5 linked regions of the Homo sapiens genome follow. The protein of the gene in region 1 interacts with the protein of each later gene in a pairwise test. Each region holds a gene or a part of one and is shown in the gene's direction. Other genes may lie near its edges.

The links.
Region 2: the proteins of FHL5 (region 1) and SLIT1 interact in binary tests that used the Homo sapiens proteins (3 or more experiments, as listed by UniProt).
Region 3: the proteins of FHL5 (region 1) and ANKS1A interact in a two-hybrid assay, tested with the Homo sapiens proteins (one large-scale study listed by BioGRID).
Region 4: the proteins of FHL5 (region 1) and ZNF766 interact in binary tests that used the Homo sapiens proteins (3 or more experiments, as listed by UniProt).
Region 5: the proteins of FHL5 (region 1) and BCL6B interact in a two-hybrid assay, tested with the Homo sapiens proteins (one large-scale study listed by BioGRID).

The regions. Positions count from the first base shown.
Region 1 is NC_000006.12:96,601,117-96,604,638, forward strand, and holds part of FHL5 (four and a half LIM domains protein 5), read left to right. Parts: exon of another isoform or gene 1-36; intron 37-2,485; 5' UTR 2,486-2,497; coding exon 2,498-2,656; intron 2,657-3,522. UniProt on the Homo sapiens protein: May be involved in the regulation of spermatogenesis. Stimulates CREM transcriptional activity in a phosphorylation-independent manner.
Region 2 is NC_000010.11:97,042,950-97,046,471, reverse strand, and holds part of SLIT1 (slit homolog 1 protein precursor), read left to right. Parts: intron 1-2,958; coding exon 2,959-3,102; intron 3,103-3,404; coding exon 3,405-3,522. UniProt on the Homo sapiens protein: Thought to act as molecular guidance cue in cellular migration, and function appears to be mediated by interaction with roundabout homolog receptors.
Region 3 is NC_000006.12:34,895,755-34,899,254, forward strand, and holds part of ANKS1A (ankyrin repeat and SAM domain-containing protein 1A), read left to right. Parts: intron 1-3,500. UniProt on the Homo sapiens protein: Regulator of different signaling pathways. Regulates EPHA8 receptor tyrosine kinase signaling to control cell migration and neurite retraction.
Region 4 is NC_000019.10:52,283,072-52,286,593, forward strand, and holds part of ZNF766 (zinc finger protein 766), read left to right. Parts: intron 1-213; coding exon 214-342; intron 343-3,522. UniProt on the Homo sapiens protein: May be involved in transcriptional regulation.
Region 5 is NC_000017.11:7,026,040-7,030,156, forward strand, and holds the end of BCL6B (B-cell CLL/lymphoma 6 member B protein), read left to right. Parts: intron 1-417; coding exon 418-582; intron 583-665; coding exon 666-796; intron 797-910; coding exon 911-1,048; intron 1,049-1,463; coding exon 1,464-1,580; 3' UTR 1,581-3,605; downstream 3,606-4,117. UniProt on the Homo sapiens protein: Acts as a sequence-specific transcriptional repressor in association with BCL6. May function in a narrow stage or be related to some events in the early B-cell development.

The DNA.
Region 1 (3,522 bases):
TGAGGTCAGGAGATTGAGACCATCCTGGCCAACACGGTAAAATCCCATATCTACTAAAAATACAAAAATTAGCCAGGCACGGTGGCATGAGCCTGTAGTCCCAGCTACTCAGGAGGCTGAGGCAGGAGAATGGCTTGAACCCGGGAAGTAGAGGTTGCAGTGAGCCGAGATCACACCACAGCACTCCAGCCTGGGCAATAGAGCAGGACTCTGTCTCAAAAAACAAAACAAAACAAAAAATTAAGAAATATGGTCTATATTGTAAGGCATTTTCTGTGGATCCAGGCCTGTTATGTAATTAGGACTGGGGTGGGAGAAGGACCGTCTTGTCTTATATTTAGACTTCTGATCTGATCACTAAATAAGTTACAGGTATTTTGATGTTGTCATGTTTAAAGTGTCATTTAAAATAAACAATTGAAATATTATCAATTTGGTAATCCCTTTTGTGGTTTTATATGTTTTATATATTCATTTTATAATACACTAAAAGCCTCACAAAATGGCAGTAGACTGCAGTTCCTAACCCCTGAGGGGCCGTGTTTCATGATGCTATTATACACATCTAAAACTAAAATAAATATTAATGAAAACGACGTTTTCCATATTAAGTGAAGAGAGTTAAAGGTACATATTTTATTTCTATAAAGTGACAAACACTTGATCGCTGTAAATGTGAATACAACTTTTATTTTTAAACCTTTCAAGGGAATTAGATCTATTTTCCTGCTGTTTCCAAGCCTTCGGTAACCCTCTGAGTGTGTTTGTATTCACTAGGAAGGAACATTTCTGTGGAATTAATCAAATGGAGAATTCAATGTTCCTTTTAGATAATTTTGGCCATGTTCCATTGCGAACTTTCTAGTCTGCATTTCATCTCTTTCCTGGGAAAAGACCCACATATTCCAAATCCTCTGCCTTTTCTCTACTTGTTAGTGAAGAACAATATAGCAAAACTGCTATGTACAGAATTAATAATCATGTGCATTCAGCAAGGCTCTCTGCTGGGAATTTCATCACTAGAATAAGGCAAAACGCATGAGAATAAGAGTTCAAATGTAGTCAGTACAAACTAGTATCAAAAACTCTGTTGTATTATCGTTAATTGCTCCTCTGATTTTGCTAAAATTAAAAGAAAAATTATGTGGGGGGAGAATTAGAAAATATTCAAAGCTCCTAATATATTCCAGTAAACCCTGAGATGACAAATCTCATTTTCCAAGGAAAAGCAGTGCTAATTTTTTTTTGTAACAACAAAGAATTCATGTTCAATGCCTAATTAAAACCTGGAAATCTATATGCGTTGTTTCTTTTTTTTTTTTTTTTTTTTTTTTTTTTTTTTTTTTTTGAGACGGAGTCTGGCTCTGTCGCCCAGGCTGGAGTGCAGTGGCACAATCTCGGCTCACTGCAAGCTCCGCCTCCCGGGTTCACGCCATTCTTCTGCCTCAGCCTCCCGAGTAGCTGGGACTACAGGCTGTGCATTGTTTCTTAATGGCTTTCCAAATTTACAAAACAATCAGAGTCCTTATCTATCACTGGCTTTATGTTTCATATCAGCTTTTTTATTCATCTTACAGAATGCATTTTGCCTTGCAGATGAATTCTAGCTATTTTATCCATAGCTATAATGGAATAGCTGCTGCTATTATTTATGCTCTATACATGTTACTTTGGCCCTAAAGCCTGAAGGAACCCATTGTTGTTTTCTACCACTGATGATTTTATCTGCACTTCTGCATCTGGGCAATTGTTCACAATAGTCACAAAGACCTAGCACTTGGTCTGAGAATCCTACCTGCTGAGGAGTTTTATTTGGCCAGTTTGGTAAAGGACATTTAAATGAAGATATCTAAAGCTAGCAGAAAACAGAGATTTTGGAGTCATCAGCACATTTGGGATGGTGGAAGCCACAGCCAAGGAGGGGATGTAGTACACGAAGACCTCAGGGTAAATGTGCAGAGCCCTTATTAGGTATTCAGTAAAGACTTGAGGAGTAAAAGAATGAACTAGAAAATGACAATGTACTGATTATTAATTTATATTTGAGTAAAAAAGACTGTTATTTCCATCAAAATCTGCCTCTAGAATTTTCCAGCAAGAAAGTAAGTGATGATAGTTATTAAAAGCCCTAGCAACAGTTTATATCCTTGAGGTAAAACCATCCTGTTTCAACAGATACCATATTCTCATTGAATTCCACATTAGCTTATGATAAACACAAGATGTTTTTCATAATCTAGATGCAGGTTTTATGCATTTTTTTTTAGCAAAACATACAGGGAACTGCCAAGATGGGAGAGTAATCTTTCCTAAATCACTCCAAATGTCACCATGACTATAAGCATACTTTCCTAAATTGGGGGATTTTTGCTTAAGAAAATATAAGTTCATTCAAATGCTTCACTCACATTATATTAAGGTTTCATCATTTATCCTATAAACAAAATTCTGCTTTTATATACATTAATCACTTTGTCATTCATAGGATCAAACCAAAATGACAACTGCTCACTTTTACTGTCAATACTGCACAGCATCACTTCTTGGGAAGAAATATGTACTAAAGGATGACAGTCCATACTGTGTTACATGTTATGATCGTGTATTTTCTAACTATTGCGAGGAATGCAAAAAACCAATTGAATCTGATTCTAAGGTAAGTCTCACCTCAATTTACAGAATTACTGCCTATGAACAGCAAACAAGTGGGTTGGAGTGCCTCTTTTCATTTAGTGTTGACTTTCAACACTATTTCTCTGCTACTGGATATATAAGGATCTTAAAAGTTACCAGCAGTCAAGCTCCAGCCACTACACTTAGCACTATGAAATACAACATATGCTTAATCCTCACATGATCTTCTAAGGTAGCTGAGAATGCTAAAGATTAAAGGGGTTAAGCTATTTGTCCAAAGTTACACAGCTAGAATTTTCCTGCTGTTTCCAAGCTCTCAGTAACCTTCTGGGTGTGTTTGTTATTTCTGGAATGACAAGGGTATAAATAAATGCATAAAGAATTGAAGTTGAAAGGATTCAAAATCTGTTTTCTGATGTAAAATCAGCTTCATTTCTTACTAAACCCTATTGATACCTCTCACACCTACCACCCCTTCCTCCGACATGCTTATTCTTTCTTTCTTTCTTTCTTTCTTCTTTTCTTCCTTCCATCCTCCGATTATTTTCCTCTCTCTTTCTCTCTCTCTCTCTCTCTCTCTCTGTCTCTTTCTTCCCTCTTTCTGCCTTTGTTTTACTTAGGTGATGTTATTTTTTGTCTGTTTAGTTACATCTCAAAGAGTAATAGAACATTGCACCCTAAAATTTTTAAAAATCATTCCATGAAAAACCTCTATTATAGTTTATAAAAAGAATATAGGCAAATTTTGAAGACACAGCAGAGAATGTATTTGTTTTTTCCCAGCTGCCTTAAGTGACCCACCAAGAAAGCCCTGGGCTCTAGCTCTTAATTACCCCAGAGAGTCTCCTCTCTATGGGTAACAGTTTCAGTAACAACTTTCCCTCACGC
Region 2 (3,522 bases), on another chromosome or scaffold:
TGTTCTCTTGTACCCTGGGGCATGGGGCCAATGCCCAGTTGGCCTCAAGGGATGGAGACATGTGGACCCTTCTAGGGGTCCCTTCCCATTGCCCTCTGGTCAGGCTGCAAGAGCACAGCATGAGTTCAGGAGTGGCTGGCACTGCTGCAGGCAGGAGGGGCTGGATGACCTTGCCAAGGTGATTCAGTGGGTGTAGATAGGGGAGCAGGGATGCTGCACTGTCCCTGAGATGCTAGGATCCCATAACCCACAGCCCAGCCTGAGCTGACCAGAATCTGGAGCTCAGTGGGATCCTGGGGTCATCTGCTCCTCCATGATGCAGGACACCCCCTCCATCTGCCCCAGGAGGGCTGGCTCTTCAGATGATCCTGAGGGTGTGTATCGTGTCCCATAGACAGGGCAGTCTGTCGGATCTCCCACAGAGATGGAAATGTTTCAAGTCTACGCTGTCCAGACCAGTCACTTCATGTGGCTGTGGAGCAGTTGAAATGTGGCTAGTGCTACTCAGTGACTGAATTTTGAATTTCATTTTATTTTAATGCATTTAAATCTAAATAGCTACATGTGGCTAGTGGCTACTATATTGGACACCACAGCTCTAGGAAGCCACTTGCCCAGGTATAAGTCCCAAATCTGCAGCAGGATGTAGAGTTGTCTCTGAGCAAGTAAATGAATGTGTGACAGGACTCCCTGTGGATTTTTGTTCCTTTATTTTACAAAAAGCAAATTTTATTATGCACTATGTTTTGCAGCTTGCTGTTTTCACCTGTGAATACAGCATTGCCTTCTTTCCAGGCTGTTCCTATAGGCTGCCTCATTTTTCTTTATGCTTACCTAGTATTCCTTAAATGTGGGTGTGGGGGCTGTCCAGTCAGCTGCATTCTTTCCAAGGAAGACTTAGATAAGGACAGAGGAAAAGAGAAGGGCCCATACCCCATCACTATCCAGAAATGACCACTGTTAATTGTTGGTATAAACAACTGTCTTTCCAGTCTTTTACATATCTCTAAACCTGCATACACATACATATACACACATACATACATACAAGCATGCACGCATACAGAAATATTCTAATGGACTCGTACATTTTATTTAGTAACCTGCTTTTTCCTTAAACTTAATATGAGCACCATTACATATTAAAATTTTTTTCCATTCCACATTTAATTCCTAATACAAAAAAAGTGCTCTGCATCAGTTTGAATGACTAGGTATTATATAATTATTGGCAATGTAGGCTGTTTCTATTTTTTTTTTTTTATAAGCAATGTTGTATTGATACCTGCCTTAGTGGGTTCAGGCTGCTATAACAAAGAGCCACAGACTGGAGGTTTATAGACAACAGAAGTTCTGGAGGCTGGAAGTCTGAGACCAGGGTGCCAGCATGGATGGGTTCTGGCGAGGGCCCTCTTCTGGGTTGCAGACTTCTGACTTCTCATTGTGTCCTCACATGGTAGAAAGAGGGCAAGAGAGCTCTCTGGGATCTCCTTGATAAGGGCACTAACTCCATTCATGAGGGCTCCACCCTTATGACCTCATTACCTCCCAAAGAACCCCCATCCTGATCCCATCACACTGGGGATTAGGACTTCAACATAGGGATTGGAGGGGATCACATTCATTCTGTGACAATATCTTTATTGTGAAGTTCACGTATAATGCATGATAATACTCTTGTTAGGAATTCCTAAAGATGGAGTAGTCGGGTGAAAACACAAAGTGTCATTTTGGGGATTTTGCTACATCTCACCAAATGCACTTCCAGGGAGGTATAAAGGCATCTCCTGCCAGTGTGTGGAAGTGCCCAGTCACTCACACTCTCAGAGATCCTGGATGTCATTATTATTATTATTATATTTTTCATTCTTTTTTAATTTGGCAGGCAAAAAATCAATATTGCATAAGTGTCTTTGATTAGTAGTAACATTGAACATTTTTGTGAATGTTGATAAACCATTTTAATTTCTTTTGTGAGTTGGCTACCCTGTGTTGACTTGGTTTTTGTTTTTACTTTTGGTTGGCAAGTGAAATTGAGCTGGGTTTTTGTTGTTATTGTTGTTGTTGTTTAGGGAGACAGGGTCTCACTCTGTCTCCCAGGCAGCTGGGGTGCAGTAGTGCCATCATAGCTTACTGTAACCTTGAACTCCTGGGCTCAAGAGATCCTCCCACCTCAGCCTCCCAAGCAGCTGGGACTACAAGTGCACACCACCATGCCTGGCTAAGTTTTAAATTTTTTTGTAGAGACAAGGTCTCGCTATGTTGCCCAGGCTGGTCTCAAACCCCTGGTTTCAAATAATCCTTGGCCTCCCAAAGTGCTGTTTTTACAGGCATGAGCCACTGCATCAGGCTTGGGCTGGGTTTTTGAAGATGAACAGCAGCTTTTCCAGATGTAGATGAGGCAAAAGAGTATTCTAGAAAACTGTCACAGCGGTGTAGCAGGCTGAGGGCTGGTCCATCTCTAGGGAGGCAGGCAGGTGCCAGGGCTGAGATGGTCCGGGTCTGGGTAGACATGGTCTCAGGTCACAGTAAGGAGTTCGAGCATGACTCGGTGGGCAGTTTGGAGGCTGTTAGTGGACTTTAAGCTGGAGAGTGACATGATGGATTAGGTTTCAGGAAGTCTCCTGGGCACTGATGTGGAGCATGGCCTAAAGACGGGCAGGAACTCTGGGCACCCAGGGCACGGAGGCAAGGCCAGCATGGGGGACAGGGCAGTGGCAGGGAGAGAGAGACAGAGCCTCGAGGCTTCTCAGAGGCGGGGGCGGGTCTGGAGTGGGCACAGGTGTGTAAAACTCGCCTCACCTGGCCGGGGCCTGGCTGGTGCGTGTTCCTGGCTCTGCGGCTCGCAGCCTATGGAGGAGAACTGTGAACGAGCCACGATGGCGGAAGCTGCGTGGCCCAGGTGGATGGCTGGCAGGGCAGCAAGGGTCCCCTCCTCCCTCCCCCGTTCCTCCCCAGAATGCTGCGGAACAACCGCATCAGCTGCATCCACAACGACAGCTTCACGGGCCTGCGCAACGTCCGGCTCCTCTCGCTCTACGACAACCAGATCACCACCGTATCCCCAGGAGCCTTCGACACCCTCCAGTCCCTCTCCACACTGTGAGTCCGGCCTCCAGGACAGGCGGGCGGGGGCTCTGGAGCAACCGTCCCAACCGTCTCGGCCAGCCACTTTGAAAGAGCTCACCCTGGGGGTGCTGGGTCTTCGTGGTTTGCTGAAACGTGGGTTCCACATTTCGAAGTCTCCCTCCGGTCCTCAGAGCCGGTCCTCTTGGTGATGGGTGGTGGTCTGGGAGACAGTGCCATGTGGCCATGTGGCCCTGTGTCCGTGGTACAGGAGGGGTTTGCTGGGACCTCTGAGAGGGGCAGAGTGTCTCCATGGCCGCCTGGCCTGCCTCTTCCAGGAATCTCCTGGCCAACCCTTTCAACTGCAACTGCCAGCTGGCCTGGCTAGGAGGCTGGCTACGGAAGCGCAAGATCGTGACGGGGAACCCGCGATGCCAGAACCCTGACTTTTTGCGG
Region 3 (3,500 bases), about 62 Mb from region 1:
AAAATAGTTTTTCAAGAATGTCTTTCTTTTTTTTTTTTTTTTTTTTTTTTTCTGAGACAGTGTCTCTCTCTCTCGCCCAGGCTGGAGTGCGATGGCACGATCTCGACTCATTGCAGCCTCCACCTCCCGGGTTCAAGCGATTCTCCTGTCTCAGCCTCCCGAGTAGCTGGGATTACAGGCGCACGTATTTTAGTAGGGACGGGATTTCACTGTGTTGCCCAGGCTGGTCTCGAACTCCTGAGCTCAGGCAGTCTACCCTCAGCCTCCGGAAGTGCTAGGATTACAGGCGTTAGCCACCGTGCCTGGCCTTTTTTTTTTTTCTTTTTTTTTTCAGAGACAGTGTCTCACTCCTTCATCCAGACTGGAGTACAGTGGTGCAATCTCAGCTCACTGCAACCTCTGCCTCTCAGGTTCAAGTAATTCTTGTGCCTCAGCCTCCTGAGTAGCTGTGATTACAGGCATGCACCACTGCACCTGGCGAATATTTGTATTTTAGTAGAGACAGGGGTTTCACTATGTTGGCCAGGCTAGTCTCGAACTCCTGACTTCAAGTGATCTGCCTGCCTCGGCCTCCCAAAGTGCTGGAATTACTACAGGTGTGAGCCCCCACGCCCAGCCAAGAATGTCTTAAAATACTCCCTTTAAGTGTGATTTTGTTGGGAGGGCAGCCCTGTTCCTGCATTTTGGAATTGCTGTACTTACATTTTTGCTTTCTCTAAAGCAGAGTGTGGTTCCCATGTTAAAAAACAAAAGGAAACAAAAAAAGGTAACATGCTTGGAAATGACTTTTGTGGTAGTTACTTTATATGTAAAAATCTAGAAGGTGCCTAATCTTAAACTGAGTAAGGCATTTACTTAGAATTAAAGATAATTTACCCAGCCTGGGCAACATGGCAAGACCTCGTTTCTACAAAAAATAAAAAAACTAGGCCAGGCGCAGTGGCTCACGCCTGTAATCCCGGCACTTTGGGAGGCTGAGGCGGGTGGATCACCTGAGGTCAGGAGTTAGAGACCAGCCTGGCCAATATGGTAAAACCCCATCTCTATTAAAAATACAAAATCAGCTGGGTGTGGTGGCCTGCATCTGTAATCCCAGCTACTTGGGAGGCTGAGGTAGGAGAATTGCTTGAACCTGGGAGGCAGAGGTTGTAGTGAGCCAAGATCGTGCCATTGCACTCCAGCCTGGGCAAAAAAGAGCGAAACTCCATCTCAAAAAAAATAAAAATAAAAAATTAGCTGAGTGTGATGGCATGCACCTGTGGCCCCAGCTACTCAGGAGGCAGAGACGCAAAGGTGGGAGAATTGCTAGAGCCCAGAAGGTGGAAGGTTGAGGCTGCAGTGAAAAGAAAATTTACTACAAAGTTTAAGATTTAAAGTCAGTGGTCTCCCTTTTTCCTGCATCCTCCAATTGAAGTTCAGTTTTTACTTTCTTAGTTGCAAAAATTAGAGACAGGAAACAATGAAACAAGCTTGTGATCTGAAGAATTTGACTTGTATCTAGTAGCTTCAGCATGTTCACGGGTCATAGGAGGTTATGGTCCCAGTGAAAGTTACATTCTTGGCCAGAAAAATCCCTTCAGGAGGTTCTTTTTCCCACATTGGATTGTTCACCCCAAACAGCTGTGAATTCTGGTTTGCAAAAGGAAGTCCAGGCTATTTCTGCCCTAGTCTTTCATAGGGAAAGTAAATTACTGGGTTTTTAGCCCAGAAACACTAAGGAAACCCCAGAAGTAGACAGTGGAGAGTTTGTTCTTAGAAAAATCAGGCTCTCCTGTGGGTAGGAACTTGGTCTCTTTTTTGGAGAGCTCTCAGAAAATATTTCCCACACTGATTTCCAAAGGATTATTGGGAGATTTTCTGTGGTAGAGAAAATTATATCGTATAATATGTTACATTCATAGAACATCTTCACATAACTTTGGTGTGGTTAGAGTTAATGGTAGTAATACTGGAAATTATATGGTATGTCTTCATATTTATCCTTTCTCAGTAATTTGTAGATCAAGTTTGTTTAGTTTACAAATCAAAAAAGAGTTTTTAAAACAAGTCAGTTGTCTCTGCTTTGAAACAAGATAGTTGTATCTGTTTGTGATATTATTACCACTGATCCAGGAAGCAGAACTGCCTCCTGGCCTACTTAAGTGGTGAGGACATACTATGGTGGCTAAGGATCAGGTTCTGACCCAACTCTGCCTTGTGACTTAGGCAAATTAAGTCACTTTTCTGCGCCTCTGTGTCTTCATATATATAATGGGCCTGGGATGGTGCCTATCTTCTAAAGCAGCATTAAATGAGCTAAAGGATGTAAGGCATATAATGCCTGGCACATGGCAAGGGTTTGGTAACCCTCAGCTGCTAGAATCATCTAATGGGAGCCAGGTGCTTGCCACCCTTGATGAATCAGAGTGAGGACCCTGTTAAGGACATATCTTTTATTGATGTTGCCATTTTAACATTTATAATAATTCACAGCAGAAGCTCCCAACCTTTTAAACTATGAAGAGTCCCATAGTTTTAAAAAGCCTGAAAATTGGCAATGGTGGCAAAGTTACAAAGCAATCCAGGTCCACAATCCTTTGTTTGAAACCTTGGGGCCAGATATGTTTTCAGGGTGCTGACTCAATATTGTATATTGAGTCCCTAGTGGGACTGTGGCAGCACCCTGGAAACATTGTATTTCTACAGCAAAACCTGTAAATATTGACTAAATGGGATAAATATGAAGCCGCTTCATATCAGCGTAGGTCAGGTTTTGCAGCTAAATGACTGCTGCTAACTTATGAAAATATATTTTCAGAGCTTTTTGGATTTCTGAATTGTTGATAAGGGACTGTAAACCTCTGCCTTTATGGTAGAAAAATTGCAAGACAAAGAAATGCACTAAGAAGAAAATAAAATCAGTTATAATTTTACCACCTACAGAAATTAACTTGAAATTTTGGTGTACAATCTTGTTTTTTTCTGTGCAAACTTTTTTTTTTAACAGAAATGACATTATTTTGTATATACTTTGTCTCATGTTTTCACGAACTATATTGTGAAAACACTTTCCTATATTTTCTGTCCTCCTCAACCTCATTTTAAATGGATGTGATATCCGTGGTATATATGAATTGTAATTAATTTAACCCCTTTCCTGACATGGAACATGAGTTTGTTTTTCGTTTTTTGCTATTAGAACAGCTCTGTGATGAACATGCATGTGGATAAGTTTGTGTGTACATTCTGCTTATAACATTTGATATATTCAATAGAATGGTAGGTGTAGTTTCAACATTCAGCCATTGCAGAAATCAACAGCTGAATATTCAAATTGCACCTCAAAATCAACAAGAAACATACATGTTGTTGAATTTGAGGACTCATAGTAATTCTGAGGCCCCTTACATCTCCTGGGTCCTTCTGACTGGGAAGTAATATACTGATTTATGGTTGCTAAATACTACTTATATTCAGAAAGTAACCTTTGTGCAAGCCCAGGACTTTTTAATGGTTAACTT
Region 4 (3,522 bases), on another chromosome or scaffold:
CATGGTTGAACTAATTTACACTCCCACCAACAGTGTAAAAGTGTTCCTGTTTCTCCACAGTGTCTCCAGCATCTGTTGCTTGCTGACTTTTTCATGATCGCCATTCTAACTGGCTTTAAAGGATTAATTTTTAATATCATCTCTGCTGCCTAAACAGAGGGCTTGGATTTTGGAGACATCACAGCACATCTTGATTCTTTCTTTTATAAACAGGAATCTGTCTTCCTGACCTGAGTATTATCTCCATGATGAAGCAAAGGACAGAGCCCTGGACTGTGGAGAATGAAATGAAAGTAGCAAAAAATCCAGATAGGTGGGAAGGTATCAAAGATATCAACACAGGTAAGAGCTCAGATGGACAGAGTGAAAGCCACACTTTTTTTTTTTTTTTTGAGACAGTCTCTGTTCCCCACACTGGAGTGCATTGGCCATCATAGCTCACTGCAGCTTTGAACTCCTGGGCTTCAACAGTCCTCCTGCTTTGGCCTCCCAAAGTGATGTGATTATAGGCATGTGCCCCTTGCCTACCAGAGCCACACTATTAAATCGTGTTTATAAGTGGGAGAATTGTGTGGAGAAATAAGAGTTTAAAACCTGTGAGTTCTTAAGAGAAATCTTTCTTTACCCCCACCTGTCACCATGTCCTTTATGTATGTATGTATGTATTTATTCATTTATTTATTTTGAGATGGAGTCTTGCTCTGTCTCCAGGCTGGAGTGCAATGGCGTGATCTCAGCTCACTGCAACCTCCGCCTCCCGGGTACAAGTGAGTCCCCTGCCTCAACCTCCCAAGTAGCTGGGATTACAGGCGTGCGCCACCACGCCCAGCTAATTTTTGTATTTTTAGTACAGACGAGGTTTCACCTTGTTAGCCAGGATGGTCTCAATCTCTTGACCTCGTGATCCGCCCGCCTTGGCCTCCGAAAGTGCTGGGATTATGGTGTCAGCCACCGCGCCCAGCCCACGCTGTCGTTTAGATGTGTAATAGTTTTATGTTTTTGCCCTGCAGTGTTACTGCAGCCCAAACAGAGGCAAAAGCAAAGGCTTTTATCATGATGGACAATACCCTGTCATGTGGCTTCTGTCAACTCTTTAGTCCTTGATTCTGAGGGTCACAGAGAGCGCTGCTTCAAAGGAGTCCCTTTTCCCTGTGGTCTCTTCCTGTATGGGATTTTATCTGATGCTCAGTTCTCTGTCCTTATACATCAGAGCTGAGGTCTGCATAGACCTGCCTCCTTGACCTATTCATGATCTGCCCATTTCCTGTACTGGGAAGACCTGATGGGGAGATGGGAAAACACAGGCTGCTGTCTTTTGCATCTGGGTCCTGGAAACTGCATGGAGCTGTTTCAAGCCCTCTTTGCCTGTTCAGTTCTGTTTGAGGTGGGAAAAAGTCAGTGATTTTCCTACTCTCACATGCTACTTGGCACAGAATGCTTCATTTCTGGTCACCAAAATGTGTGGAGATTTCTCCCCACCAGCAACCAGTTTTGGGGTTTCCTGCAATTCATTGGTGACACTATCTACCTGAGTTAGAGTCGCGTCCCACAGGCTAAGGGTTGAGTTCCCAAGCCTGTCCGCCACCAATTGCCAGTAGCGGGTTGTCACCTTTCCATCTGACCAACCAGCCACAAGTCAGGGTTCCCTCGACCCCCTTCTTCTGTTTGGTTACTTTGCTAGGGTGGCTTACAGAACTCAGTGAAACACTTCGTTATGTTTATTGGTTCATGAGGAAGGATGTTTCCAAGGATACAGATGGACAGCCAGATGAGGAGATTCACAAGGCGAGGCACATGGGAAGATTCACTGGGTGTGCCGCCCTTGAGGCCCACCGCACGTGTTCAGCATGTGGAAGCTCTCAGGAACTTTTATGGAGGCTTCATTACTTAGGCATGATTGGTATTAACTCAGTCTCCAGCCCCTGTACCCTTCCTGGAGGATGGTGGTTGGTGCTGACAATTCTGTGCTTCTAACCATGGCCTGGTCTTTCTGGGCTTTCTATACCTGCAGATATAGAAACCATGGATATGAAGGCCAATAGTAAGGGACTTGAGCATCACACATTTTGGTATCTCAGGGTTTTTTAGCACAAAACTCGCAAACCATGTTTTTCCTCTGCTCTCACACCACCACGACAATTATCAACACAGAAGAAGACTTCTCTGACCAAAGGTGTGGGGGGTTTTCCCCATACACCAAGCAGCAGACAGCAGCTGGGTGTCCTCCAACTCACTTCCAACACTGTATCTGGAGATAGGGCCAGGTCCCACAGGTTTAGGGCTCAGTCTCCAAGACTTGCCCCCCTTCCCACCAGTTGCAAGTCTGGGTCTCCAAACTTCTGACCAACTGGCTTCCAGTTGAGGTTTCCACAATCCCATCTTTGGGCCCAATTAGTTTGCTAGAGCAGCTCACAGAAGTCACAGAAACACTCAGGTTTACCGGTTTATTATGAAGGATATTGCAAGGGTACAGATGAAGAGACATGTGGGACAGGTATGGGGGAAGGACTGTGGAGCTTCCAAGCCCTCCCTGGGCGTGCCACTCTCCAGGAAGCCGCCATGTGTTCAGACATCCTGAAGCTCTTGGAACCCAGTCCTCTTGGGTTTTCATGGAAGCTTTGTGACATCAGCATTCCTTCCCCCAGGGTATACAGCAGGAACCTCTCTGGGGAGGTCTTAAGACCCGCAATCAGAAAGGTAGGGGGAAAGTTAGAGTCCTGCCTTAGGGCAGGTGAAAGAAGAGGAGGAGAAGGTTGGAGAGGTTATTTTTCTTAAGGTCTGCAGAGAAGGTCTAACCCAACATTATACCCAAAGACTGTAGCAAGGGCTATGGGAGTTATGAGCCAGGAACTGTGGACAAAAACCAAGGTATATGTGTATCATAACACCACACAGAGGAGCCTGGAACGTGTCCTCCCTGGATACCAAGGGAGGGATTCTGAATCGAAATAATGGATGTGCACCCAGTCAGTAATCAATGAAAGAGAGTTAATAAGCACAAGTGGGTACCACTGCATTTAAATGATATAAGACCAGAGAGTCAAGAAAGACCTGGATCCCGGAAGAGCTCAATTAAAAAAAAAAAAAGAAAGAAAGAAAGAATCCAAGTGGGCTTTTCCCCCCTAATTATAAAGGAAAAGCCTTCATTCTTTCAATATTGAGTATGATGTTACCTTTCGGCTTTTTATATATGGACTCTATTATGTTAAGTAAGTTCCTCGTATTCCTAGTGTGTTGAGTGTTTTTCTTTCTTTTTTTTTTTTTTCTTTTGGGGGAGTGTCTCATGCTGTCCTGATCTTGACCTTGGCTCACTGCAGCCTCCACCTCCCAGGCTCAAACAATCCTCTCACCTCAACCACATGCCTGGCTGATTTTTGTATTTTTTGTAGAGGTGGAGTTTCGCTGTGTTAGCCAGGCTGGTCTGGAATTCCTGAGCTCAAGCGATCCTCCCGCCTTGGCCTTCCAAAGTGCTAGGATTACAGGCATGAGCCACCGTGCCTGGCGAGTGTTTTTATCATAATT
Region 5 (4,117 bases), on another chromosome or scaffold:
GCTTCCCGAGTAGCTGGGACTACAGGCACGTGCCACCACACCCAGCTACTTTTTGTATTTTTAGTAGAGACGAGGTTTCACCATGTTGGCCAGGATGGTCTCCATCTCTTGACCTTGTGATCCGACCGCCTCGGCCTCCCAAAGTGCTGGGATTACAGTCGTGAGCCACCGTACCTGGCCCCCACCACTGCTATTGAAGAGGAGATTAGCTGAGTACTCGAGTCAGACAGATGTGCAGTCAGATCTGGCTCATCTTACTATCTTCTTACTTGGCCTTGAGCAAGTCAAACCAGCCCCAGAAGTCTTAACAATAAATTGGGAAACAGAAAGCCTGCTACTGTGTGGTTTGAGGATTCAGTAGTACCTAGATAGCCCTCATTAATAACTATGGTTGCCGTCACCCATTCCCCTTCCCAGGAAGTGAATTTTTCAGCTGCCAGAACTGTGAGGCTGTGGCAGGGTGCTCATCGGGGCTGGACTCCTTGGTTCCTGGGGACGAAGACAAACCCTATAAGTGTCAGCTGTGCCGGTCTTCGTTCCGCTACAAGGGCAACCTTGCCAGTCATCGTACAGTGCACACAGGTAGGGGAAGAGAGGGCCCTGGCCTTCAAGCCCACAGCTGTCCTAGGGCAAAGTCCCTGATCTCCCATGTTCTCTGCCTCCAGGGGAAAAGCCTTACCACTGCTCAATCTGCGGAGCCCGTTTTAACCGGCCAGCAAACCTGAAAACGCACAGCCGCATCCATTCGGGAGAGAAGCCGTATAAGTGTGAGACGTGCGGCTCGCGCTTTGTACAGGTACGGAGCCAGCCTCCAAGTGGCTTCCAAGGCAAACCTGCAAGAGGTGGGGTGGGCCAATAGGGAGGGTTCTGTTCCTCCCAGAGGCAGGACTTGAAGTCTCCTCCCTCCCAGGTGGCACATCTGCGGGCGCACGTGCTGATCCACACCGGGGAGAAGCCCTACCCTTGCCCTACCTGCGGAACCCGCTTCCGCCACCTGCAGACCCTCAAGAGCCACGTTCGCATCCACACCGGAGAGAAGCCTTACCACGTGGGTACCCAACCTGGCCTGCCCACTGCCTTAGAATTACCTCTCCTTTGCCTAGGGGTGGGCTCTGAGAGGTGCGGGCCTGGCTGTCCCTAGATCTCTTAGAAATGAGCGGTGGCCGGAAGAGTCCAAGCAAATAAGGGGTGGAGGCTGGGAGTCAGGATGGGCAGGTATAGAAGTGATGCTCCTGGGCTGAGCACTGTTTTCTCAGAGAGGAGCTGAGAAGTGGGAAAACCTTTGCTAAATAAGGCGGGGCCTATCCCCTCAGCCACCCCTGAGGATTTGGGAGGATGTGAGAGTCAAAGAGCTGATCTTCCGCTGGATAGTTCCCACCTGGGAGAGCTGGACGGCCGCCCGGCTCAACACCTAAAAGGTGATTGTGGATGGGGCAGGGCCTGACTTGGCTGTCCTCCCACAGTGCGACCCCTGTGGCCTGCATTTCCGGCACAAGAGTCAACTGCGGCTGCATCTGCGCCAGAAACACGGAGCTGCTACCAACACCAAAGTGCACTACCACATTCTCGGGGGGCCCTAGCTGAGCGCAGGCCCAGGCCCCACTTGCTTCCTGCGGGTGGGAAAGCTGCAGGCCCAGGCCTTGCTTCCCTATCAGGCTTGGGCATAGGGGTGTGCCAGGCCACTTTGGTATCAGAAATTGCCACCCTCTTAATTTCTCACTGGGGAGAGCAGGGGTGGCAGATCCTGGCTAGATCTGCCTCTGTTTTGCTGGTCAAAACCTCTTCCCCACAAGCCAGATTGTTTCTGAGGAGAGAGCTAGCTAGGGGCTGGGAAAGGGGAGAGATTGGAGTCCTGGTCTCCCTAAGGGAATAGCCCTCCACCTGTGGCCCCCATTGCATTCAGTTTATCTGTAAATATAATTTATTGAGGCCTTTGGGTGGCACCGGGGCCTTCATTCGATTGCATTTCCCACTCCCCTCTTCCACAAGTGTGATTAAAAGTGACCAGAAACACAGAAGGTGAGATCACAGCTCTGCTGGCAGAGATTACTAGCCCTTGGCTCTCTCGTTTGGCTTGGGTATTTTATATTATTTCTGTCATAACTTTTATCTTTAGAATTGTTCTTTCTCCTGTTTGTTTGCTTGTTAGTTTGTTTAAAATGGAAAAAGGGGTTCTCTGTGTTCTGCCCCTGTAATTCTAGGTCTGGAACCTTTATTTGTTCTAGGGCAGCTCTGGGAACATGCGGGATTGTGGAATTGGGTCAGGAACCCTCTCTGGTATTCTGGATGTTGTAGGTTCTCTAGCAGTCTAGAAATGGATACAGACATTTCTCTGTTCTTCAAGGGTGATAGGAACCATTATGTTGAGCCCAAAATGGAAGTAATAATAAATGCCTCCTGGAGGCTGTGGGTGTGGGGGATTCTGTATCTGGATTCCGTATCACTCCAAGTGGAGGCTGGCAGGTTTTTCTGCAAGATGGTCCAGAATCTAAAATGTCCCATTAATCTGGTCACTTGGGTTTGGCTCTGCTGTATCCATCTATAGTGGTAGAGACCCACCAGGGCTCAAGTGGAGTCCATCATCCTCCCACGGGGGCCTGTTCTTAGCACTGAGTTGATCGCTCCATGGGGGAGAGATCAGACATTCCTTATCAGAGATGATGTGACCTTTTCTGACTCTGCCCAGTCTCTATGAATGTTATGGCCTAGGGAAGAATCATGAAACTCTTTAGCTTGATTAGATGGTAAACAGTGTTAACCCATCCTTTACTACAGAGGCATATGGGTTTGAATGTTACCTGGGGTTCTCTCTATTGAGTTGAGCCCCTTCTTCCTTTAGTGGGTTTTGGACATCTTCTGGCAAGTGTCCAGATGCCAGAACCTTCTTTTCCTCTAGAAGGGATGGTGCTTGGTAACCTTACCTTTTAAAAGCTGGGTCTGTGACCTGGTCTTCCCATCCCTGCATTCCTGTCTGGAACCAGTGAATGCATTAGAACCTTCCATAGGAAAAGAAAAGGGGCTGAGTTCCATTCTGGGTTTGCTGTAGTTTGGTTGGGATTATTGTTGGCATTACAGATGTAAAAGATTGACTAGCCCATAGGCCAAAGGCCTGTTCTAGTTGACCAAGTTTCAAGTAGGATTAAGAGGTTGGTTGAGGGGTGCAGTTTCTGGTGTAGGCCAGGTAGGTAGAAAGTGAGGAACAGGGTTGCCTCTTGGCTGGGTGGAGTCTCTGAAATGTTAGAAGAAGCGCTGAAGCCTTGATTGATAGTTCTGCCCCTTGTTGCCCTGGGGCTTATCTGATTATGGGACGAGGGTAGAAAGTAAGAAGCACTTTTGAATTTGTGGGGTAGAACTTCAACAATAAGTCAGTTCTAGTGGCTGTCGCCTGGGGACTAGTGAGAAAGCTACTCTTCTCCCTCTTCCCTCTTTCTCCCCATGGCCCCACTGCAGAATTAAAGAAGGAAGAAGGGAAGGCGGAGGAGTCTATAAGAAGGAATCATGATTTCTATTTAGCAGATTGGATGGGCAGGTGGAGAATGCCTGGGGGTAGAAATGTTAGATCTTGCAACATCAGATCCTTGGAATAAAGAAGCCTCTCTGTGCTGCCTGCTGTGTCCTGGGTTCTTGCCTTGGGGGACTCGGGGAGCGAGGAAGAGAGCTCTTCCTCCTGGATAACATCTTGGATTCTGTACCATTCCACTGTCCCTTCCCACCAGACATTTTAAATGGTCCTCGTTGTCCCCTTCCCTGCCCTTGCCTTCCTGCTCATTGTGTAGGAACCAGTGACTTCATGAAGTTTCTCCGGAGCCACCTGCATCCTGCTGCTCTGAAGTCACTTCCTGCCTGAGGTGTGGAGGCTGCAGGGAGAAACCAGGAAGCCACTAATAATATCAAGAGGCCGGGGCGTGCATCTGTGCTGGAGATCTTAATGCTGGCGACATGCCTCCATCACCAAGGAAGATGGATAAGAGTTGGGTCCCGTAAAGACCACAGGGGCTGGAGGTGGCACTGAGAAGACTGAGTTAGAACTAACGGGCCAGCCCACCCTCCCCCAGCAAGGGTATCTTGAATCTATCCAGGGTCCAGTGCATGCATCTCTCCCACCCTTTCCCCTGTC